Regions from separate parts of the Homo sapiens genome. Here regions 1 and 2 are each linked to region 3. The links come from fine-mapping of genetic effects on gene expression. A gene starts in region 3. Each other region holds a variant in brackets. All regions are shown on one strand. Distances are between the middles of the regions. Region 1 has its middle 4.7 kb from the start of AXIN1. Region 2 holds the start of MIR5587 (microRNA 5587). Region 3 holds the start of NME4 (NME/NM23 nucleoside diphosphate kinase 4).

Region 1 (8,172 bases), 39 kb after region 3:
TCGGACGGACGGCCAAGCCCATCATGGCGGACAGCGGGACGGTGGGGCGTGAGCAGGCACACGGAGCCAGGCAGGTGAGGTAAGCCGGGCAGGCGGCCGGGCGGACAGGTGGACGCGCCTCCTCTGCCCATTGTTCTCGCGGCTGCGGCCCTGCCCTCGGCCCACCCCACCCTCGAGTGCAAGCCCACACGCAGCGCCCGCACCCTCACCCTCAGACCCTCTCCGGGTGTCCCGAGGAAGGGTCAGGGGAAGAGACAAAGGGAGCAGGGTGAGGCAGGATGAATCCTGACGGACCTCGGACCCCAAAACCGCCCCGGTGGGTCTTCCACGTCAGGTTTCACATGGAGGCGGCATCAAAGACCCCCGACTGATCCAGGCCGGCGTCCCGGCCGCCACTCCAAGGTTAGGAGACAAGCCATGTCAAGTCGGTGCCGTTTAAGCAGCATTTTTTCGAGGAGAAAAAAAAAAAAGAAACAGAAGCGATATAAAGAAAAAAAATGTCCACCTATGACACGGGAAGCGGCCAGCCCGATGGATCAGAAGCGCCAAATCCCATTACTCGGGACTTCAGGGACAGGCCCTGCAAGGGCAGCTGCGATTAAGAGCTTGTCAATGGACTCTCCTTTAGAGATCAAAGCGGGGCGTGCTTGTGTGTGTGTGCGTGTGCACGTGTGTGCGCGTGCACGCGTGTACGTGCAGGAGCGGACACTGTGGGGTGACAGCACAGAGGTCGTGCACCGCAGCACCACGGGGCCCATACGTCGCCGACGCGGCCACCTCCACACTGCTTGCGTCCTTGCTGCCGTGTGCGACGTGTGTGGACGCGGCTGGGGGCCTGGGCCGGGTACCTGGTCCCAACACCTGCACCCTTTCAAAGGCCTCCACCTCCTGCTAGAGGCCGTGCCTTCCCCAGGTTCTGCCCAGAGGAGCCCGCAGGGGCCGAGCTGGGTGTGAGGACAGCCGTGGCTGCGTCTCCTCCCCCCGACCACGTCCTGCTGCCCACAGAGGCCTTGAGCTCTCAGTTGGCCTGGCAGGCGCGCCCTGGGGGTTCAAAGCTCCCGTTGACACGATTGTTAGGTTATTAGGTAAACTCTGAGACGTAAATCTTTTAATCCACTGTGGCTAATCCGGTTCACTTTTGTTTGCCACGACAGACGCCGCGGCGACAAAGGGGCCTGGGGCCCAGCACACACAGTCACACGCTCAGAACTTGGCCGCGGCCTCAGGGTTCCTAGGCAGTGGAGAGAGACATCTTGGGACAGCCAAGCAGAGGGAGGCGGCGGAGGGCACAGGTGGGCGGGGGCGCAGGTGGGCCGGGGCAAAGGCAGCTGCCCGCTGGGGGCCGCACTTCCTCACCTCCCATTTAATGTCCCCTTGCCAGCTCGAGGGGGAACCGCTGGGCACTGGGGTGTGCAGGTATCGGGGCCGCTGGGGATAGTGGGCAGAAGGACAGATGAGCACCAACGGGGGGGCGGCAGCGCCCGGAGAGGCGTGTGGGATGGAGGCCGTCAGGGCAGGGAAGGGCGTTCAGGTGAGGGAACAGCAGGGACAAGGACTGTGGTCGGTGTGGCAGGGGCAGGAGTCCCCCCAACAAGGACAGGAAGCGGCCTGAGGCTGCCCAGGGAGGTGGGACGTCACCTGCTACTTCCCGAAGTCAGCGCGAGGCCCCTCGGGGCATGGCCCCTGCACTTGGATGCCACCTCTTTTTGGGAAAACAGCACTGAGGTTGGGGGAGGCCAGCAGGCCCTGCCCTGTGCTCACAATGTGCCTGGGACACCAGACCTGGTCCATGGCCAGCCGTGGGCTCCATCCCGCCACCCGGCCTGTCAGAGAGGGTCACACACGGACCTCTGGGGCTGTGAGGCCAGGTCAGGACGATCACTTTGCCCAGGGGGACACTGGCACAAGGAGGTGCCTGCTTTGCCTAGGGCTACAGGCTGGCCCAAGACAAGGATGGGCACTCAGGTCTCCTGGGAGGCAGGTGCCAGGCCAGGCCCAACAGTCCCCTGATGTCAGCAGCTCCCGAGTTGGGAAGTGGTGGCCGCCCTCCCCTCCTACTTCCCCAGCCCCTGCGGCCGGACCCTCCAGGCAGGCCTACTTGACCACATCCTGGTATCCACCTGGCCCCAGTCCCAGCCCCTGGACACCCTGGGGTCAGAACTCTTCAGAAAGGCAGTGCAGGAGGACTCCCCTCAGGACACTGGGAGGTGTGGACAGTACCCTGGGATGGAGGGGACCGCCTCTGGGCCGCCTGGCTGGCCAGGCCCCCGCCCTGTTGCCAGTGCTTTCCTGTTGGCCTTGGCGTCCTGACCCTTGACCCCTGGAGGCCAGCGGGGATGTGGGGACTGTCAGGTCTGCTGGACGGGGCTGGGCGCAGGCGACGTGGGTGACGGCAGGTCTGGGGCCTGCCCCAGGGGACAAGTATGGACCCGGAGCCAGCGGGGACCAAGCACTGTGGCCACAGCAGCCGTTTCATTTCTTTTTCTTTTTTTTTTTTTTTTTTGAGATGGAGTCTCACTCTGTTGCCCAGGCTGGAGTGCCTTGGCACAATCTTGGCTCACTGCAACCTCTGTCTCCTGGGTTCAAGTGATTCTCCTGCCCCAACCTCCCCAGTAGCCGAGATTACAGGGGCCTGCCACCATACCTGGCTAATTTTTTGCATTTTTAGTAGAGATGGGGTTTCACCACGTTGGCCAGGCTGGTCTCGAGCTCCTGACCTGAGGTGATACGCCCACCTTGGCCTCCCAAAGTGCTAAAATTACAGGCGTGAACCACTGTGCCTGGCCTAATTTTTGTATTTTTAGTAGAGACGGGGTTTCACCATGTTGGCCAGGCTGGTCTCGAACTCTTGACCTCAGGTGATCCACCCGCCTCAGCCTCCCAAAGTGCTGGGATTACAGGTGTGAGCCACCGAGCCTGGCCACACACAGCACCCGTTTCTTTGGGCCCCTGCCCCGCAGCGGCTGAGTGGTTCACCCTCCACCTCTCTGTGGGTGGGTCCTCCTGACCACAGGTGCCCAGCCAATGGTGGGTCCCGGGGGCAGAGGCCGTCAGGTCATCCATGGCCATGGTGACAGTCACACTGACCTGATATTGGAGCCAGGGCATATGAGGTAGGGCCCTGCTCCCCTTCCCCCAGGCCTCTGCCTTTTGTGGGGACCAGGATCACTCCTGGGGCATCTGCCCTGCGGAGGCAGCTTTGGCTACAGAGCTATGTGGACCACTCCAAATAGGAAG[C/T]GTGTTGCAACATAGTTGGATGACACACCTGCCCGACAGGTGTGAGGGGGAGAGGAGGAAGGACCTATCTAGGGGCACATCAGTGCTAAGGGGGCTGCCAGATGTGGAGGCCGGGGAGGCCCCAGCCCAAAGTGACACCAACAGCTGGGATGGCCCAGGAAGCCCCTGGCAGGGTGTGTCTCTCAGGAAGGTGGCAGAACCTCCATGCCAGGCCCCAGGCCACCGTGGGGCGATGTGGCTGCCATCAGCCGTGACCATCACCCTGCTGGACACACACTGCCCAGTGGTCAGTTCCACCCCTCAGGGCCTCAGCCGTGATGCCCGTCTCCTTCAGTGGGTTAACTTACACAGACCGTTCCACGGGACCATAACTGTTACATCCCTGTAGACATTCCTGAACATGCAAAGAAGAAAATGGAACTTCATGCTTCTGCTTCCACTAATAACACGTGGACTGTTTTGAGTCTTCTTGCCCTTTTTTTTTTTTTGAGATAGAGTCTCGCTCTGTCGCCCAGGCTGGAGTGCTGTGGCGCGATCTCAGCTCACTGCAACGTCCGCCTCCCGGGTTCAAGCGATTCTCCTGCCTCAGTGTCCCAAGTAGCTGGGATTACGGGCATGCGCCACCACGCCTGGCTAATTTTGTATTTTTAGTAGAGATGGGGTTTCTCCATGTTGGTCAGGCTGGTCTCGAACTCCCAGCCTCAGGCGATCTGCCTGCCTTGACCTCCCAAAGTGCTGGGATTACAGGCGTGAGCCACCACGCCTGGCCCAGTGTCAGGTCTTTCTCTCACCCAGACTGGAGTGGAGTGGCACCATCTCAGCTCACTGCAGCCTTGACCACTCGGGCTCAAGCCATCCTCTTGTCTCCGTGTACCTGGGACCACAGGTGCACGCCACCATGCCTGGCTAATTAAAAACAATGCTTCTATAGGGAAAGGGTCTTGCATTGTTGCCCAGGCTAATCTTAAACCGCTGACTTCAAGTGATCCTCCCGCCTCAGCCTCCCAAAGTGCTGGGATTACAGGTGTGAGCCACTGCGCCCCGCCCACATTTTCTATTTTCAGGAAAAGTGGTGCCCTGTGTGCGTGGCCTGGCGGCATGTCTCTGGGGTGTTGTAGCTCCTTGTTCTCTGTCGGGCTTGGGATGGGGGCACAGGCAGCATCTGGCCTCTCCTGTGGGCTCAGAACTGATGGAAAAAGAAGGCTCAGGGATGAGAGCTGGGGCTCGCCTTACAGCCTGGAAGGCGGTGGAGGGTGGTGGGGGCTCTGCCTGCGATGGAAAGTGCAGTCCTCCCTCGCCTGAACGGGATGGTCCAAGGCCTCCCTCCCCCTCGAGGGGCCTCCCTCCCCTCCAGCGGCCTCCCCTGCCTGCCCACTCCCACCTCTCACACCTATGGACTGAGCGGAGGGGGCAGAGAAGGGGCAGACTGGAAGAGGCTGAACCCAAGGCTTCCCTCAGCCTCCAGAACCCTGGATCAGAACCGTCCGTCCTCTTCCCCCGCTCCCCTTACACTGATGCAGGGTCGGTGGCTGCACAGTGTCCATCTCTGCAGCTGGCTGTCTCCATCACACATCGTACAGCGGCAAACACTCCCCAGCTAATGTCCTTGGGGTGTCTTCCAGGGTTTCCTTTGGGTCATTTTTTATAAGTGGTCTTCCTCAGTTAAATGGATAAACACACTTAAGGCATCAAAACTCACTTTATTATTTTCTTAATTTTTATTTCTTGGAGACACGGTCTTACTCTGTTGCCCAGGCTGACGTGTAGTGGCTCAATCACAGCTCACTAAAGCCTCCAACCGCTGGGTTCAAGTGATCCACCTGCCTCGCGCTCCCGAGTAGCTGAGACCATAGGTGCGCAACACCACGCCCAGCTAGTTTTTAAAAATTGTTTAGTAGAGACAAGGTCTCACTATGTTGCCCAGACTGGTCTTGAACTCCTAAGCTTAAGTGATCCTCTGGCCTTGGCCTCCCGAACTGCTAGGACTACGGGTGTGAGCCACCGTGCCTGGCCTTTTCTTTATTTTTATTTTTTTGAGACAGAGTCTCGCTCTGTCACCCAGGCTGGAGTGCAATGGGGCGATCTCAGCTCACTGCAACCTCTGCCTCCCAGGTTCAAGCAATTATCCTGCCTCAGCCTCCTGAGTAGCTGGGACTACAGGTGTGCGCCACCACGCCTGGCTAATTTTTCTATTTTTAGTAGAGATGGGGTTTCACCATGTTGGTCAGGCTGGTCTCGAACTCCTTACTTCGTGATCCACCTGCATCGGCCTCCCAAAGTGCTGGGATTACAGGCGTGAGCCACCGCTCCGGGCCAGCCACTTTATTTTCAAGGTATTCCTTTTAGGCTGGGCATGGTGGCTTGGGCCCGTAATCCCAGCACTTCGGGAGGCCAACGCAGGTGGATCCCTTGAGCTCAGGAGTTAGAGACCGGCCTGGGCAACATGATGAAACCCTGTCTCTAGCAAAAATACAAACAATTAGTGGGGTGTGGTGGCACACGCCTGTAATCCCAGTTACTCGGGAGGCTGAGGTGGGAAGATCACTTGAGCATGGTAGGTGGAGGCTGCAGTGAGCCAAAATCACGCCACTGGGCTCCAGCCTGGGCAACAGAATGAAACTCCGTCTCCAAAAACCAACAAACAAAAAAACATACCTTTTATGTCTACATTGAAGAAAATAATTCCATGTCTGCTCTTAAGTGTCTCATTTGGTGCCTAGAAACAAAACCTGATTAAATGTCATCTACGGTCAATCAAATAAAAGCCTTCGTGGCAAACTCACGCTCGAAGCAAAGGGCGTTTGCCTCTTCAAGGAGCTCTGTGAGGAAGGGAGGTGGCTGAACCTCACCCTGCACACCACAGGCCCCCGCGCGCCTCCCTGCCCCTCCTCAGGGCCTTCCTCTACCTCTCTTCTGCCTGGCCTGCCTCTGGTCTCCTCCTACCCCCACTAGGCTCAGAGAATCTCCCCTCCACACCCACACCACAACCTACTTTAGAAGGGCTGCTGCATTTCCTCCAGGCTTTCTGACCCCCTTCCTGTCCCTGCAGGGCAGGGGCCCCGAGGAGCTGGAGGCCCAAGGGCCTTGTTCTGGTCCCAGGGCCTGGGGACACCTGCCACCGAGGGCCAAGAGGAGGATGGACGTGGACACAGCCCCGAGAGCCTGGCCCGGACACAGCAGCAGCTCTGCAGAACCAAGGCAAGCATTGGGGACCTTGTTGGGAGTCGGGGGGCAGCCCAGGGGCCAGTGTCTGAGGTCCTGCTGTCTGTCTGGCCACCCAGGACTCCCTCATCCCTGGAAACTGTGCTTTACCATGGAGGCCACCCACTCTGTCTCCTCTAAGGTTCTGAGGCTGAATGGGCTAGGGGGCTTGCGGGGAGGCCCCAGTGTCCAGCACTGTGGGACCTGGCAGGGTGCCTGCGGCCAGGACCCAGCGGGGCCAGGTGTTGGTCTAACAGTGCAGCTTCGTTCATATCCCCAGCCCCTGCCCACCTGCTCTGAGCACAGTGATGGCCCTGGGAGGTGGGCCTGGGCCCTTGGCAGGCTGGGGACAGCCTAGTGGCCCTTGTCCCATGCTACCCCCTTTCCCACACAGCGATGCTGGCATCAGACACCATGCTGAGTGCTGGCAGGGGCGAGGGCTGGGAGGCTTCCACACATGGTTCCCCATGCAGTCCCACCTGTGGGCATCTGGTTGGGGGTAGGCTGGAAGCTCGGGGAGCCTGGAGCTGGGACTTCTGTGCTTGCCTGGGAGCTCTGAAGGGTGAGGCTGGGCATCCAGGGTGACACAGCCCAGGGAAAGACATGGGGGTGACGTGAGAGGTGCCTGGAGGGAGCTGGCAGGTATGGACATGATGGACACGGAAGCACGGAGGCGGGCAAGTGGCCAGACGCATCTAGGGGAAGGTGTGGGGGAGGCGCCCTTAGGAAGGGCCCTGAAGGGCTGTGGGCAGCAGGGAGCCCTGGGAGGCCTAAAGCAGAGGGCAGATAGATGAGGGCTGTTGTCTCAGGTGTGGGGCGGACGAGGTGGGGAGCCCTCACCCAACAGGAGGCGAGCTGGTCCTGTGTGGCCTGAACTGCAGCTGTCTCCTCTGTGAAACGGGGGTATAGCTGACCCCAGGGGGCTGCCTGGAGCATCCCGGGAGGTGCCAGGCCCAATAGTGCTCTGGGAAGGACAGGGCCCTGGGCTGTTGTGGGAGGCGGCAGATCCTGGTACTCACATCCTCCTCCTTGGGGAGGGCCTGATGGTTGGCTGAGGCCTGGGTGGAGAGCAGAGGGTTGGTTCTGACAGGGTTGGGCTGGCCAGAGCTGGTGCTGGGGCTGCTGCTGGGGGCCCGTGCCTCTCTGCCGTGGGGTGCCTGGGGCTGTGACCTCATGCTCTGTGGCCTGCAGGGCAAGTGACACGGATCTGGGCAGCCAGGGTGGCAGGATCGGACTGGACCCCTTGGCAGGGCCGCTGTGGAGACAGCCCAGGGGAAGGGGTGCAGGGGTCTGGACACTCCAATGGCCTTGCTCTCGGGCTGGCCTGGGCAGCGGAGGGAAGGAGAACCCTTCTCTGATACTAGATGGTGCCTGGGAGAAATCAAGGCAGAGGGTCCTAGCCGGTGGGCTCTTTGGAGGTTGTGGCTCCTGTCCGGGTGAGAGCCACCATATATTGGGGCCTAACGTGTTCCCTGGCGCTGTGAGTCCAGGCTGCCTTGGGACTCAGGAGGGTGGAGCCCACCCCACCTTCCAAGGGCCCTGGCCATCCCTGCCTGCCGACCACCCCACTCCTGGGAGCCTGCTTCCCTCACGGCGGCGGGCAGGCCGTGGCGGTCCCCACGAGGGCCTCCTCTCCAGGGCCGGCTGGGCAGGGAGCCCCGAGGCCTGCAGCCCCCTGACTGCCCTCCGATGTACTGGCGGCAGAAAAGGGCTGCGCCCCACGTGCGCCCTTCG
Region 2 (8,172 bases), 140 kb before region 3:
CCCTAGAGGGAGGGAACTGCATTTAGGAGGAAGACTCCGATGGGAGGGCCCCAGGAAAGAGGAGCAAGAAGTGGTGGGAAGGAGGGAGGGCAGCACCAGCAGCCACCCCCAGGGACAGCGCCCAGCCAGGGCTGACTGCATCTCGGCCGTGGGTGCTGGCTCCGGCCAGACCTCGGCAGGGGGGTTATCATGTCCAGGGCCACTGAGGACAGCAGGGACAGGGCCTGCTGCGGCCAGCCAGAGGCTCTTGGGAGGAACGCTCACCTGCCACTCCCAGGTCCGGCCCACCTCAGGGCCTGGGCACACGTGAATCACCCAGTGCAGTGGCCCCGAGGACGCAGGTCAGGTCAGTCCGTGGTTCCCATCCTGGCTCCCTGTCTGAATAACCGGGGGGGGGGGGGGGCGTGCAGGGGCACTGTCACCAAGGAGTGTGCCCAGGCCAGGCCGAGGGACAGCAGGGTGAGGCCCCCGCAGAGCATGCCGAACTCTGACCCCTGACCCCAGGGACATGCCCTGGGCCGCTGCTGCTCCTGTAGGGCCTGCCGCCGGCCAAGCATCTGTGCTGCTCCCGTGAGCTGCATGTGCCCCCCGGGCCTCTGCTGTGGGCCAGGCTGTTTCAGGTGCTCGCGAATGGGAACCAGCAGGAGCCGTGACCACAGGGCTGACTCTCAGGGCGGCGCCTCAAGAGTGGCCGTGACTCATGACTGCCACAGAGCCAGGCTGCAGCCACGCCCGCCTCTGGGCTCCCTGGAGGGGCAGGGTGCGGAGGGCCCCGGGCTGTGTGGATCCATGCCTGACCCCCACAAGTCCAACTGTGCAGCTCCCCGCCCTCCCTGGGAGCCGATGCCCTAGTTTTAAACGGGGCGGTGGCCTAGATCCAGCCTCAGAGAATTGCAGAGGTGAGGCCGCCACTGCCCTGTGGGGACAAGTGGTTAATGAGCAGGGCCAACTGGCCGGTCCCTGTCCTGTATGCCACACACACACCCCGTGAGGGCAGCAAGGAGCATCCAGCCAGGGGACGTGCACGAGAAGGGCCAGGATGATCACACTGCCCGGGGCTCAGCACAGGGCTGAGTCCCGGAGGTGACCATTGCCGCCCCGCTCCATCTGCGGCCACTGAGGTCTGCTGGGGGTCTCTGGTGCTGGCCTTGACAGCCCACCCGTGGCAGGACAGGGTCTCGAGGTGCCTCTCGGTAGGTGGTGGGCTCAGTGGGGGTGACCCGTGGGGACGGAACGCATGCTCCTGAGGCTCCAGTGGATGCAGGCAAAGGCACCTCCCGGGGTCAGCGTCCCTACCTGGGGAGCTGGGAGCCCACATGGGAGCAGGGCTGGCACAGCGACCCCCAGCCTTGCGCGGGCGGCACCCACAGCTGTGTCCACTCCGCATACACTCCTCACTGTCTCGCTAACTAATCATGTACACGGCTGTACCCCCGAGCCCTCCCCTGCCCCGCAGGTGACACAGGCGTGTCCCACTCACACAGCACCTGCTCCTGGGCCCTACATCTCCGTCAATCTTTCACAGAGCCATCTTGCCACCATGGGAACCACAGCGACCCCAACAAGGATGCCCCGGTGTCACCCCTGCCCGAGCTGGGGGTGTGGGGGGCAGCAGATGGAAAGCGGGGGCCCCTGTGTCCAGGCAGCTGGTGGCCTGGCCTTGCCCCACGGCAACCCCACTGCGCCCTAAAACTGCACCCACCAGACCAGAGGCTGCTGGTCCAGGCAGGAAACAAGAGCCAGCCACTACCGGGACGAAGCTCAGTCGGTGCCCACAACCTGAAGACAGGCAACTCTGCCTTTGTCCCCACTGACGCTAAGGCCCCTGTGGAGGAGATGACCCCAAGGACAGGAAGCTCCTGCATGAGTCGGGTGGGAGGGCTGAGGACAGGGCTTCCCATCGTCCCTACAAGAAACAAGGCCAGGGCCCCGCCCTGGGGGAGGACGTGGACTCCGACCGCCCGCCCCAAATGACAACTGGCAGGACAGCATTCTCCAGAAACAGGTGCAGGCCGCTCCCCAGGGACCAGGCACCCTCCTGGCTGAGGATAGCGGTGGGGGCCGTGCACAGGCTCCTCACCAGCCCCAGCCCCAGCGCTGCCGTGGGGATGGGGAGCTCCATCTGGGGGCCGGGGCCACAGCACAGGGGAGGTCCCCAAAGGGACAAACACCCCTGTCGGGACCCCGGGCCGCCCTCACCGTCGCCTCCCACGACAGGACCACGGCCCAAACGGCTGGGAGAACGAGGCTCTTCAGGGCAGGCAGGGCTGCCGGCCTCCAGGGGTTCTGTGAATCAAGGGCTCCGAGAGGCCCCCCAGCCGTGGGCACTCCAACCCTGCTGCTCCACAAACAGTTCTGCAGCGCAAGCAAACCCATAAACGAGCCGCAGGGCTTGGGAACAAACTCACCTGAAGCTGCAGCAAGCTCCCAGGCCCTCTCTGTGCCGCGTCTGGGCTGCTGCCTAGAAAGGGAGGCATTTAATCAGGCACCTCAGCTTCCACCAGGAGGACTCTGACCCTGGAACACAGAGCCCCGCCTCCAGCCCTCTCTGCAGGAGCCAGAGTCCCGGGAAATCAGCCCCGGGAGACCCTTCGCCTTAGAAGCTGTCCGAGCTTCTGTCCTTGGGTGTCTGTCCGAGCGCCAAAGGCAGCCCGGGGAGCAGCAGGGGCTCAGCAGGCTCCTCACTACCCTGGTTTAAGGCCCTTGACCTGTCCAGTGCGGTCAACCTCCGGCCAGCCAGGACCGCAGACAGGGCCATTCAAGATCCTGTCCGGACCTCCCACGGCCCGACCCTGCTACAAGGAGCAGGCCGTGGGCAAGAGTCCATGAGCGGGGCTGCAGAGCAGCACCAGCCAGGGAGGGCGGCCGAGCTTCCCAGGCACTGCCAGGGAAAGGTGCCCAGCTTGGGCAGGCACAGGCACACAGCCAGGTGGCCACCTAGACTCCCCCGGACCCCAGCCCGAGTGCCACCCGGCCACTACAGCTGTCAGCAGGGCGGCCACTGCTTCGAGCCAGGCGGCTTTGCTTCTCTAAGGTCATGCTCTCCATGGCGGACCCACTGCGGTGGGCAGGATGCTCACGCTTCCCGCCCTGTCCTTCCTGGGCCCTGTGTAGGGCCCACCATGGACTCCTCACTCAGCCATCACCCTCTTTTTTGTTGGTTTTAAATTTTTTATTTTATTTTTTGAGATAGAGCCTCGCTCTGTCACCCAGGCTGGGGTGCAGTGGTGCAATCTCAGCTCACTGCAGCCTCCGCCTCCCAGGTTCAAGCTATTCTCCTGCCTCAGCCTCCCAAGTAGCTCGGATTACAGGCGCCCGCCACCGTGCCCAGCTAATTTTTGTATTTTTAGTAAAGACGAGGTTTCACCATGTTGGTCAGGCTGGTCTCGAACTCCAGACCTCAGGTGATCCACCCGCCTCGGCCTCCCCCAGTGCTGGGATTCCAGGCATGAGCCACCATGCCCGGCCCCTCACCCTCTTTTGTGATCAGCATGAGGATGGTGTGCAGGTGTGTCCAGTGGCACAGGCATCACCTGTTTTTTTTTTTTTTTTCTCTGACAGAGTCTCGCTCTGTTGCCCAGGCTGGAGTGCAGTGGTGTGATCTCGGCTCACTGCAAGCTCCACCTCCTGGGTTCACGCCATTCTCCTGCCTCAGCCTCCCGAGTAGCTGGGACTACAGGCGCCTGCCACCAGGCCCGGCTAATTTTTTTGTATTTTTAGCAGAGATGGAGTTTCACCGTGTTAGCCAGGATGGTCTCAATCTCCTGACCTCAGGTGATCCACCCGCCTTGACCTCCCAAAGTGCTGGGATTACAGGCGTGAGCCACAGCGGCTGGCTTTTTTTTTTTTTTTGAGACAGGGTATCACTCTGTCACCTAGGCTGGAGTGCAGTGGTGCCATCTCGACTCACTGCAACCTCTGCCTCCCGGGTTCAAGCAATTCTAGTGTCTCAGCCTCCCAAACATCTGGGATTACAGGCACACACCACCACGCCCAGCTAATTTTTGTATTTTTAGTAGAGATGGGGGTTTCGTCACGTTGGCCATGCTGGTCTCTACCTCCTGACCTCATGTGATTCACCCACCTTGGCCTTCCAAAGTGCTAGGATTACACGCATGAGCCACTGAGCCCAACCGAATTCTACTTTTTTTTCTTTTTTTTTTTTTTGAGACGGAGTATAGCTCTGTCGCCTAGGCTGGAGTGCAGTGGTGCCATCCCGGCTAACTGCAACCTCCGCCTCCCAGGTTCAAGCAATTCTACAGTCTCAGCCTCCTGAGTATCTGGGATTACAGGCACACACCACCACACCCAGCTAATTTTTTTATTTTTAGTAGAGATGGGGTTTCGCCATTTTGGTCAGGCTGGTCTCGAACTCCTGACCTCAGGCAACCCACCTGCCTCGGCCTCTGAAAGGGCTGGGATTACAGGTGTCAGCCACCGCACCCAGCCCCGACTTCTATTTTTAACAGGAAAAAAGGACCAGACAAGCACTCGTGGTTTTTGGCACTTCTCTACTTCTCTGCTTGCCATGTGGTGGCAGAAGCAGCCCTGGTCTGGGCAGCCCGGTGACCTCACTGGTGGCCAAGCAGAAGCCTCTGGGACACAGGGGGCACCTGTCACCCCAGAGAAGGGGACGGGGGCCTTGGGAGCCGTGTGGCCCTGGGCACCTGTCATCCCAGAGAAGGAGACGGAGGCCTTGGGAGCCGTGTGGCCCTGGGGGCACCTGTCACCCCAGAGAGGGAGACGGAGGCCTTGGGAGCCGTGTGGCCCTGGGGGCACCTGTCACCCCAGAGAAGGAGACGGGGGCCTTGGGAGCCGTGTGGCCCTAACCCAGAGGAGGCCTCGTGGCACCTCTTTCCCCATCAGCTCCAGCCTCTCTGCAGCCACCTTTTCAGGAGGGGCAGGAACTCCAGAAAGCTCCAAAACTTATTGCCTTTCTCATTACAGGGGACA[G/A]GGAGGTGGGGGGTAGGGAGTGGGGATCAGGCAGGGGCAGAAGGTGTAAGAGGTTCAACCTGCCTGGGGGACTTCACTTACAAAGGGCAGAGGCTGGGTGTGGTGGCGCCCACCTGTAGTCCCAGTATTTGGGAGGCTGAGGCAGGAAGATCACTTGAGCCCAGGAGTTTGAGGCTGCAGCGAGCTATGATTGCAACTGCACTCCAGCGTGGGCAACAGAGCACGACCCTGGCTCAAAAAAATAAAACTTAAAAAATGTTAAAATAAAGGGCAACTTTTTGAAGAGAAGTGAGGGGAAGGCCATGAGGAGGAACTCCCTCATTAGCGGAGCAAGCTCCTTCCACAGAGGAGCAGACGCTGCAGTCACTGTGACATTTAAAAAGCAGCGATGGCCCTGCGTCCTCCTGACATCCCGTCTAGGACCGCCAGGGAGGCGGGGATGGCAACCCTTGAAGCTTCCCTTTGACCTCAGGGAATCTGACAAATCGTTGTATCTGGAGGCCAGGATGGCGAGGCTGATGCCCATGACCCGACGGGACTCATGGGTCCACCCTGGTGCCCTGGATGAGTTCTGGGGAGGGCGGCCACACTGCTGGCTTCCCATGCAGCACTCAGGCAGGCCCCTCAGAGTGTGCAAAGCAACAGCCTGACGCAGCTCATCTTGGGGGGCCCACGGGGTCCCTGCCCTGGGCTAGGATGCCCCCATCCTCCCACAGACCCCATTCCGTGCACCCTGTGGGCCCAGCAGCAGCCCCTGTCCTAGTGGTACAATGTGGCTGTCCACAGACTCCACGCCCAGACACCTCCCTGGGCCACGCACCGGGAGGTCTCCACCCAGCTGTGTGTGACCCACATAGTGACAGGGTGTGGCTGAACGGGTCTAGGTCCAGCCCCAACCCACAGCCTCCCTGCAGCGAGACACACATGCAAAGATCACAGGCCAGCAAGCCTGTTCTCTCAGACTCAGAAACAGGCCGAGCTCAGGTGTGGCCGTGTCCACGCCACAGGGGCTGCTGTGCTACTTTCCTGGAGCACGCAGGAGTCCCCCTGGGCTGCCAGAACCCAGGTATTCAGAACTGCCTGTGGTGAGGGCCAACCCCAGGTGCTCACTGACCGCCTGCTCTGCGCACGGCTGCATAGCGCTAGACACTAGGCCTACCAAGAAACAGAAACGGACCCTGCCCTCGGCGCCACATCCAGCAGGGAGACAGGGCGGTCCCAAGTGTAAGTGCTGCAGGCAGATCCCACAGTGGGGAGCCAGGGACCAGCTACAGGGTCACATGAGAACCGCACAGACCTCAGCGTTCTCTCCAGCGTGGGGCATGAGAGGCCAGTGGCTCCACACAGCTGAGGCACAGCCTGGTGGTGAGAAAACCCACATCCACACCGAGTGGGTACGAGGGATGCGGAAGGGCTTTAGGCAGAGAACAAGTCCCACTGGGCTTCTGGGCACTCCTGCTGTGCCAGGGGTCAGAGGGCAGGACCAGAGGGACAGAGCAGGAAAACAGGAGAGCAAAGCGCACGAGGCAGCCCCCGGGTTGGGGGCCTCCTTCTTCTGTGTCTTATGAGGAAACCACCCAAGCCCACCCTCCGTGTCTCCTGTCATTTCAGCCTCACGGTCCAGGGCCGAGTGGCCACCCAGGACAGACACAGACCTGACAAGTCACCAGCCTTCCTGGGTTTCTGTCACTGTTTTTCAAAGACCCCAAGCTGTTTTGTTTAATGATGTCGTCCTCCTTCTCAGCACCTGTCCACGCCTGTTGCCATGAGTAGAGGCATCACACCGCGGGCCAGAGGGCTGGACCAGGGGCAACTCGGCCACCAACGGCCGAGTTCTTCACTGAGCGGCTCAGGCCCATGAACAACACCTGTGGTTCCGGAGGATTTTCCGGGCAGCAGAATCCTTCCCTCCAATTGCCTCGTGTGAACTGGTGGAACCAGCAGGAGGGAGAGACCAGGCGCTCAGCCTCCCTCGGCCCCTCCCCTGCCATGAACAGCTGTCTCCAGCTTCGGTTCCTCACCTGTGGCACTGGGGTTACCGGAGTGCTGCCCAAGGCCAGGGCAAGAAGCAAGTGAGGGGTGCCCGGAGAGAGAGCCAGCAGGGCTTGAGGCTGTCACACAGATGCAGCATTACAGGGGACCAGCCACTTCCTGCTCTCAGAGACCACGGTCTGTGGAGGCCCAGACAAGAGGCCCTGCGCAGTTATGCAGTTACTGAGCCTCGGGCTCTCCTGGGGACTCAGAGGTCACTGGCTCCTCTGCCAATCAAGGAGCTCTGGAGAGCCTCAGACACAGACAGAAGCAGGAAAAAGAGGGGTGCTCCTCCCGCAAGCAGAAGGACCTCGGAGGAGGCAAGGCACACCCAACCCAAGGCCAGGCCAAGCTGGTTTCCTGCAGGACCTGCCTCCCCCAGACAGGCCAGAAAAACAATTTCTCTTGCCCCACTTCACAGTTGAGAAGTCACTCAGAACCGGAAGGGAGAATCACCCCTATATCCTTGCCCAGCCCCAGACTCTGGAAACGCGGAGGCAATTACGGGGCACTCCCACACTGAACTGTGACTCACGTTTCCGCACCCCTCAGACCTGGGCAGAGGAAGAGATCCGGGTTTCCCGAAGGAGAAGCACACAACTCTTCAGCACCCAACGGAGTCCCAGTCTTCCCCACTGGCCCCACACACCCAGGCCTGGCCTCAGGTTCTGGGCCTCACCATTGCTTTCCGGGTCTTGTTACCTGCAGTCCGGTAACAAACTCCAGAGCAGTAAGGGGGCCCCGAGAGCTCGCCCGGCCAGGGCCAGCTGACCACACAAGAGTTCCCCCGGTCAGGACTAGAGGGGCCCCTTCTGCAGCCAGCGGGAGGACAGCAGATTTGCAACTTCCCAGCTGGTGCCGCAGCAGCCCCAGAGGAACACGGAAGAGAACACTGGCATGGCTGGCACAGACGGGGCTCCCGCCAGCCCCTCCACGCCAGGTGGCCGCCCCCAGGCCGTTCCCCAAGTGAGGGGAGTGATGCCCGCACCAAGCACAACATCCCTAAGGCGGCCAGGACCGCACGATGGGCCCGGATATAAGGGCACTCAAGGGCAGGCAGGGCCGAGGCCGCCTCCGGTGTGCGCGGCCCCCGGGGCTGGCCTCAAGTGACCCACATGGCCCAGGTCCCTGCCGACTTCCCGCCTTCCTCTGGGTTCCTCTGCGAAGCATCGCCCAGCCCTGGCCCCC
Region 3 (8,135 bases):
GTCTCTGGACCCCTGCCTGGCTCATACATCCAACAACGTTATGGAACTGGGTGTGCAAAACTTCCTCTTTACTGTTCAACTCCTTACAACTTGCATAAAGGCGTCATTTCTACCTCAGAGCTGGGGGAAGTCATAATTAGTGTACCACCCATGTGCTGGGCACAGTGAATTTTAATGCCTCCCCTTTAGAGGAGAGGTTATGATAATGTGAAGACCCCCCCCCACCACAAAGGTTGTCCGGCACTTTGGTGCAAAAAGGATTGGTCCAATCTTGTGCTGGCTTGGGGTACAGAAAGGCACTGAAGTTGGTGGCTCAAACTCCTCTGGGCTGGGGTGGGGCAGAGGTGAACAGGGAAGTAAGTGGTTTGGGACAGGCAGGTTTGGATGTGGGCTTGGGTTCTTGCTGACGGAGGTAGTTGGTCCTGCGTGGGGGATGGGGTGGTAAGGGCAGCTTGAGCCTCAGGCTGGGTGGATGCTGCTGTGCTGGCCCCCGTCTGCCCAGCTCACCAGCTCACTGCTCTGGAACCACAGCTGGATCTCCCGCTGGGCCCCCTCCACGGAGTCGCTGGCGTGGATGACATTCCTGTGCCAGGACAGGAGCAATGTGAGGCTCAGGCTTCATGTGCACCCTGAGGAATCCCAGGGACCATCTGCTGCTCCCGTTGCCCTCTGTCTAGGGGAGCAAGCCTGTGACTGCAGACAGGGAAGGAGTAACAGTGGAGCTGGGAAACCGGGTTCCAGCCTGGCCTCGGCCTCTTACAGCCTCGTGGACCCGCCCAGGCCCCAGCTTTTGGGAGCCTCATTTCCCCCCAAGTTGCCCCGTGCCAACCCCTTGGGGTGTCAGGTAACAGGCAACGATGGCACGGTACACACAACACAAAGGGAACACCTCATTGCCCTGTGTGCCCTGGGAGAACACGGCTCTCACCAGTGTGAGCTGTCATGTCCGACCTGGCTTCATCCTAGCACAGCAAGACAGCCAGGTCTCGTGGATCTGCCACCACCCCAAGTGATGGCCCTCCTTGCCCCCAGCAGCAGCCTGGTGTATCAGGACCCCCGTACCTGCTGATGTGGACGCTGAAGTCACCCCTTATGGTTCCTGGGGCAGCCTCAGCCGAGTCGGTGTGTCCAATCATGGCCCTCGAGGCGCGGACGACATTGTACCCTTCCCAGACCTGCAGCGAGAGATAATGGTTGGGGAGAAGTGGGGAACACCAAGGGCCCCTGGGCTCAATCCAGGGCCCCTCCCTTTGCTGGGGGGAAAGACACACCCACACGCCCTTTACCCACAGGCCCTTCCACCACCCCTGCCCTGCCGTACCATGGCCACCACAGGCCCAGAGCTCATGTAGCGGATGAGGGCAGGGTAGAAGGGCTTCCTCCGCAGGTCCTGGTAGTGCTCGGCAAGGACGCTCTCTGGTGCCTGGGTGGCATTGAGGTAAGGAGGAGCCGCAGACAGTAAACGTGGGCACTAGCACAGCAGCTGTGATGCCCTGACCTCAGGCACCTTGCAGATAACACCAGCATGGGCAGCACCCCCACCGCAGAATAGATCCCTCCTGCCCCTTCAACTGCCAAAGCCAGGCCCTGCCCCGGCGCTGGCTGGGATGTGAAAGGCCGAGAAGGATCCCCCAACCCCATCCCCACAGGGACACCCACAAGCCCAGAGTCCCACTACCTGCAGCATCTTCATCCCCACCAGCGTGAAGCCCCGCCTCTCAAAGCGCTGGATCACGTCCCCAACGAGCCGCCGTTGCACGCCATCGGGCTTCACCGCCACCAGGGTCCGCTCCCGGGTCCAGGAGGGCCCTCCTTCAAAAGGCAAGAGGTCAGAGGCACTGCCACCTCACCCTTTCACGTCCCCACGACCCGGGTTTCCCAGCCAGAGCCCAGGGGTCACCAGGCTTCAGGGTGTCTGCCTCTATGCAGGGCACTCTGGAAGGGACAGGGATGGTGCCCACAGCCACAAACACCCCCATGATAGTCCCTGTCAGGGACACCCAAGGCAATGTGTCCCCAGGGCTTCTAGCCTCTCCCAGGGGCCATGGCTCCTCCCAGCAGAGGCAGAGGCTGCCTGAGATCGCCCCGAGGTTCAGGGAGGCACTGCCCAGCTCAGGGACCACCACCGCAAGGTCCATAGAGGCAGAGCCAGCTCAGGGACCACCTCAAGGTCCAGGGAGGGACAGCCCAGCTCAGCGACCACCCTGAGGTCCACAGAGGCACAGCCCAGCTCAGTGGCCTCAGGGAAGTCTGGAGATCCTGCAAAACTCCAGCCTCACTTTTGACTCCATCCCTTCTGGATGACGACAGACATGGTCTGAAGCCCCGACTTTCCACATGAGGAAGAACCCAGAGCCCACCCTGTGTCTGAGGTGAATGAGTGGCAGGGAACCAGGGAGAAACACACTTTCCCCACCAGGTGAGCCCTGGAAACACGGACAAAAAGGGGCCTGAAGATTGAAGAGGGAAGGTAGCAGGGTTCTGTCCGAGCCAGGAGACGGGGCCTGTGCTGCTGTGGAGTTTCAAGGCCTGTCGCTTCCAGACCCAGGGTCAGCGCTGAGCTCCGCCCCAGCCGTCCTCCTCTGGAGGGGACGCTGCCAGGGAAACAGAAGACGTCCTCACCTTCCTATAGTCCCAGGCTGCTCCAGAGCCAAGCTACCCTCCGGCATCGGGTCCCTGGTTTCCAGAGGAGCCCAGACCCTGTATGTCCCACAGAATCTGGACAGAGCCAAAGGGGCTCCGCCAGGCCAGGAGGAAAAGTTAACCCCAGCAGGCGGCTGAAGCCCACGGGAGGAAGACCCCCTGGTTGGTTTGTTCCCCCAAAACCCAGTTTGCAGGGCGCCTTGTGTAGCCTGGGGCTCTGCTGCGGCTGGTGCGGGCATTGCAGGCGGCGGCTCACTTTTCAGAGCCGATGGAGGGAGCCCTGGGACATGGATCGTCCTGTGAGGTGGCAGCTGGGGGGGCCGGGCAGCGGCGGGGCCGGGGACTTGGGGCCTGACGTCCCAGTCAGATTCTGGCCTAACTTGGCCTTCAGCGAACGCCCCAGCGGAGCGGCTCCCCCCACCCCCACCCCCCGACTCCCTCACCCCCCCACACCCCCACCCCCACCCCCCGACTCCCTCACCCCCCCACACCCCCACCCCCACCCCGGCCGGGAGACCCCCTCCCCGCCCAGTGCTGCAGCCGGCCTCTGCCTTCCTTGCGCTCCCGGGCCCTCGGTCGCCCCGGACCCGCCCAGGCTGCCAACTCGCCGGGCGCCTGCAGCCTGGGGCCTGGGGAGGCGAGAAGGAGCCGCAGAGCCGGACGGGCACTGGAGGGGCGTGCGGGTGCGAGCCGGCGCCTTCCCCAACTCGGACGGACCCCGCAGCCCGCGCCCCGAGGCCTCTGGGGGAGTCGGACCCCAGCCCGCACGTGCGCGCACAAAGGCCGAGCGGCGCGCGCCCCTTCCTCCCCTCCGCGTCCCCGCCGGGGCGCGCGGCCCCACTCACCCGAGCCGTGGCGCACTAGCAGGCTCGGGCCCGGGGCCCGCGGGCCGCAGCGCAGCCCCCGCAGCGCGGAGCGCCAGAAGAGGCCGCCCATGACGCCCGGCCCGCGGGCCGCTGTGAGCGCGAGGAGCGGGCGCGGAGGGCGGTGCCAGCCCGAGACCCGCCCCCGCCCGCCCGGGAGCCCCCCGCCGCCCCGGAGCCCCCCGCCGCCCCGGACCCCCGTGGCCCGGCGCTCACGGGGGAAATGTTCAACGCCAATTTCTGTTAAAAATCAGAAGAAAAAACAAAATAATAATGAATCCTTCTCGAATTGCATTCGTCTTTACACCGACGCAACCGTTAACTATCGTTTTAACGCTTTCCCACGGAGGAAGGCCCACTCGGGAGGCTGAGGCAGGAGGATCGCGTGAGCCCAGGAGATTGAGGCTGCAGTGAGCTGTGACTGCACCGCTGCACTCCAGCCTGAGCAATAGAGCAAGACTCTGTCTCAAAAATAAATTCACGGACCAAAAGGAGGTCTAGAAGCCCTGGTCTGAGCCCCCTCCAATGGAGGGTGAAATTCCCACGTGAGCCCCAGGGCGGGAGAAGGAGGCGCTCCGGAGACGCTGACTCTGCGGCCAGGACGAGTAGGCGGGACTACAGACCCGCGCCACCACAACCAGCTAATATTTTAATTTTTTGTAGAGATGGGGCCTCCCTATGTTGCCCATGCTGGTCTCAAACTCCTGGGATCAAGAAATCCTCCTGCCTTGGCTTCCCAAGGTGCTGGGATTACAGATGTGAGCCTGGTCTGTGAATTTGAATGGGGAAAAATCCGACCTTTATTCTCAAATGGCCTCTGATGTGACTGCATTCCTCTAATTCATTCAATTGCGGATATAAGGAAGAAGCCACATTCATAGTTGCAGGGCCTGTGACTTTGTCACCAACAGAATTCACAGGTACGGTAATATTTGGGTAGATAGCACAGCATGCTACTATTTGAAATGGTTAGGTCTCCCACTGCTAGAACTTACTTAATGAGTCTTGAAAAAGCCTGTTCTTTTTGCTGCTATTGTGAATGGAATTGTTTTCTTATTTGAATTGTCCATTGCAAGTGTATAACAGACAATTGAGGTTTGTTTGTTTTCAGACAGAGTGTCGCTCTTGTTGCCCAGGCTGGAGTGCAATAATGGCATATCTCTGCTCACTGCAGCCTCCGCCTCCCAGGTTCAAGCAGTTATCCTGCCTCAGGCTCCCGAGTAGATGGAATTACAGGAGCTTGCCACCACACCTGGCTGGTGTTTTTTTTTATTTTTAGTAGAGACGGGGTTTCGCCATGTTGGCCAGGCTGGTCTCAAACTCGTGGCCTCAGGTGATCCACCCGCCTTGGCCTCCCAAAGGGCTGGGATTACAGGCGTGAGCCACCACGCCTGGCCAACAATTGAGCTTTGTGTATTGATCTTGTATCCTGCAAGCCTTCCAAATGCATTTATTAGTTCTAATAGTTTTTAATTAATTCCTTGGGAATTTCTTTGTATAAGATTGTGTCATATGGAGCGGGGCACACTGGCTCATGTCTGTAATCCCAGCACTTTGGGAGCCCGAGGCGAGCGGATCACGAGGTCAGGAGTTCAAGACCAGCCTGGTCAACGTGGTGAAACCCCGTCTCTACTAAAAATACAAAAATTAGCTGGACATGGTGGTGCATGCCTGTAATCCCAGCTACTCAGGAGGCTGAGGCAGGAGAATGGCTTGAACCCAGGAGGTGGAGCTCACAATGAGCCGAGAGCATGCCACTGCACTCCAGCCTGGGCAACAGAGCAAGACTCTGTCTCAAAAAAAAAAAAAAAAAGAAAAGAAAAAACATCATGTCATATGGGAATAGAGACGGTTTCAGTTCTTTCTTTCCAATCTGAATGCCTTTTATTTTATTTTCTTGTCTAGTTGCTCTGACTAGAATTTGCAGTACTATGGTATAAAGAAGTGACTTTCTTTCTTTTTAGAGGCTGGACTCTTGCTCAGGCCTATTATCCCAACAATTTGGGAAGCTGAGGCAGGAGGATCACATAAGCCCAGGAGTTTGAGACTAGCCAGGGCAATATAGCAAGACCCTGTCTCTTGAAAAAAAATAGTAAATAAACAAAAAATATATGAGTGAAGTGTATAGTATGTCAATTGTATCCCAATAAAGCTATTGCAAAAAGGAAAAAGCAGATATTACTATAGCGTACTCTGTTTTTTTTTTGAGACGAAGTCTCACTCTGTCACCCAGGTTGGAGTGCAGTGGCGCGATCTCGGCTCACTGCAAGCTCCGCCTCCCGGGTTCACGCCATCCTCCTGCCTCAGCCTCCAGCTGGGACTATAGGCGCCTGCCACCACGCCTGGCTAATTTTTTTTTTTTTTTGTATTTTTAGTAGAGACGGGGTTTCACCATGTTAGCCAGGATGGTCTCGATCTCCTGACCTTGTGATCTGCCCGCCTCAGCCTCCCAAAGTGCTGGGATTACAGGCATGAGCCACCGCGCCCGGCCACTATATCGTACATTTTTTAATGTTTTATTTTTGTTTTTTTAGCAACAGGGTCTCGTTCTGTCACCTGGGCTGGAGTGCAGTGGTGCAGTCATAGCTCAACTGCAGCCTTCACCTCCCAGCCTCAAGCGATCCTCCTGCCTCAGCCTCCCCAGTAACTAGGAAAACAGGCCTGAGCCACCGCACTTGGCCTAAAATATTTTGTTTTTGTTTTTGTTTTTGTTTTTGAGATGGAGTCTCACTCTGTTGCCAGGCTGGAGTGCAGTGGTGTAATCCTGGCTCACTGCAACCTCCGCCTCCCAATTCAAGCGATTCTCCTGCCTCAGCCTCCTGAGTAGCTGAGATTACAGGCACGCGCCACCACACCCGGCTAATTTTTGTTTTTTAGTAGAGATGGGGTTTCACCATGTTGGCCAGGATGGTCTCGATCTCTTGACCTTGTGATCAACCCGCCTTGGCCTCCCAAAGTGATGGGATTACGGGTGTGAGCCACCACGCCCCGCTGCCTAAAATATTTTGTTTGTTTGTTGGTGAGACATCGTCTTACTCTGTTGCCCAGGCTGGAGTGCAAGGGCATGATCTCAGCTCACTGCAACCCCCACCTCCTGGGTTCAAGCAATTCTCCTGCCTCAGCCTCCCGAGTAGCTGGGATTACAGGTGCTCGCCACCACACCCAGCTAATTTTTTGTATTCTTAGTATAGACAGGGTTTCGCCATGTTGGCCAGTCTGGTCTCGAACTCCTGACCTCAGGCGATACACCCACCGCAGCTTCCTAAAGTGCTGGGATTACAGGTGTGAGCCACTGCGCCCGGCCTGGCCTACAATATTTTGATAATTTATTTCAGTATAGTTTTTTATATTTTTATTTCCTTGTATTTTATTTTGCACATTAAAAACATGCTGAGACTGGGCGCAGTGGCTCGCGCCTGTCATCCCAGCACTTTAGGAAGCTGCGGTGGGTGTATCGCCTGAGGTCAGGAGTTCGAGACCAGACTGGCCGACATGGCGAAACCCTGTCTATACTAAAAATACAAAAAATTAGCTGGGTGTGGTGGCATGCACCTGTAATCCCAGCTACTCGGGAGGCTGAGGCAGGAGAATCCCTTGAACCCGGGAGGCAGAGGTTGCAGTGAGCTGAGATCGTGCCCTTGCACTCCAGCCTGGGTGACAGAACAAGACTCCATCTTAAAAAAAGAAAAAAAAAATTATGCTGGGCCGGACGAGGTGGCTCATGCCTGTCATCGCAGCACTTTGGGAGGCTGAGGCGGGTGGATCACCTGAGGTTGGGAGTTTGAGACCAGCCTGACCAACATGGAGAAACCCTGTCTCTACTAAAAATATAAAATTAGCCGGGCCTGGTGGCAGGTGCCTGTAATCCGAGCTACTTGGGAGGCTGAGGCAGGAGAATTGCTTGACCCTGGGAGGCGGAGGTTGCTGTGAGCTGAGATTGTGTTATGGCACTGCAGGCTGGTAGACAGAGCAAGACTCTGTCTCAATAAATAAATAAATAAATAACTCTCTTGGCCAGGCGTGATGGGATGGTTCACACCTGTACTCTTAGCACTGTGGGAGGCAGAGGTTGGAGGATCACTTGAGGCCAGGAGTTTGAGACCAGCCTGGGAAACATAGTGAAACCTGTCTCTACAAAAAAATAAAAAATTAGCGGGGCGTGTTGGTGTGCGCCTGTATTTCCAGCTACCGGGAAGGCTGAGGTGGGAAGATTGCTTGAGCCCAAGAGGTCCAGGCTGGATTGAGCTGTGATCGCACCACTGCACTCAGCCTGGGCAACAGAATGAGACCCTGTCTCAAAACAAAACAAAAAAGAACTCTCGTAACTCAACAAGAAAAGCAAAACCCAGTTCATTTCCTTGTGTAATGCCTACCCCTTGAGTGTGGACCATGCCTGGTGACTGACTTCTGACACAGCAAAAGAGACGGAGTGTCACTTTCACAATCTGGTCACCAAAGACTGCAGCTGCTGCTGCTCCGCCACCTCCTGGGAGAAGCAGCTCCCCTGTTGTGAGCAGCCCTGTGCGGAGGCCCCCATGACAAGGAACTGATGTTTCTGGCCAAAAGCAACATAGGTGGGCTTAGAAGTGAATCTGCAGGAGGCTGAGGCAGGAGGATTGCTGGAGCCCA

What was found.
Region 1: its variant is fine-mapped to the expression of NME4 in whole blood (TOPMed, PIP 0.95).
Region 2: its variant is fine-mapped to the expression of NME4 in whole blood (TOPMed, PIP above 0.99).

The regions. Positions count from the first base shown.
Region 1 is chr16:353,321-361,492 of GRCh38, reverse strand. No RefSeq gene overlaps it. Among named protein-coding and RNA genes, the nearest start is that of AXIN1, 4.7 kb to the right of the region's middle. RefSeq lists an enhancer at 1-619 and a silencer at 8,102-8,172. The variant C/T (reference allele first, on the strand shown) is at 3,238.
Region 2 is chr16:528,235-536,406 of GRCh38, reverse strand. CAPN15 (calpain 15) reads right to left here. Exons shown (of 14, transcript NM_005632.3): 2 at 2,409-2,461; 3 at 265-378. MIR5587 (microRNA 5587) reads right to left here and starts at 1,091; the gene lies at 1,039-1,091. The variant G/A (reference allele first, on the strand shown) is at 4,954.
Region 3 is chr16:392,667-400,801 of GRCh38, reverse strand. It overlaps NME4 (NME/NM23 nucleoside diphosphate kinase 4), which reads right to left and starts at 3,603. Exons shown (of 5, transcript NM_005009.3): 1 at 3,489-3,603; 2 at 1,679-1,812; 3 at 1,322-1,423; 4 at 1,063-1,175; 5 at 48-583. The coding sequence starts at 3,579. The coding sequence ends at 460. LOC100134368 (a long non-coding RNA gene) reads right to left here. Exons shown (of 3, transcript NR_024453.2): 3 at 7,842-8,135. RefSeq lists enhancers at 1-94, 1,108-1,693, 3,963-4,012 and silencers at 2,973-3,042, 3,183-3,672.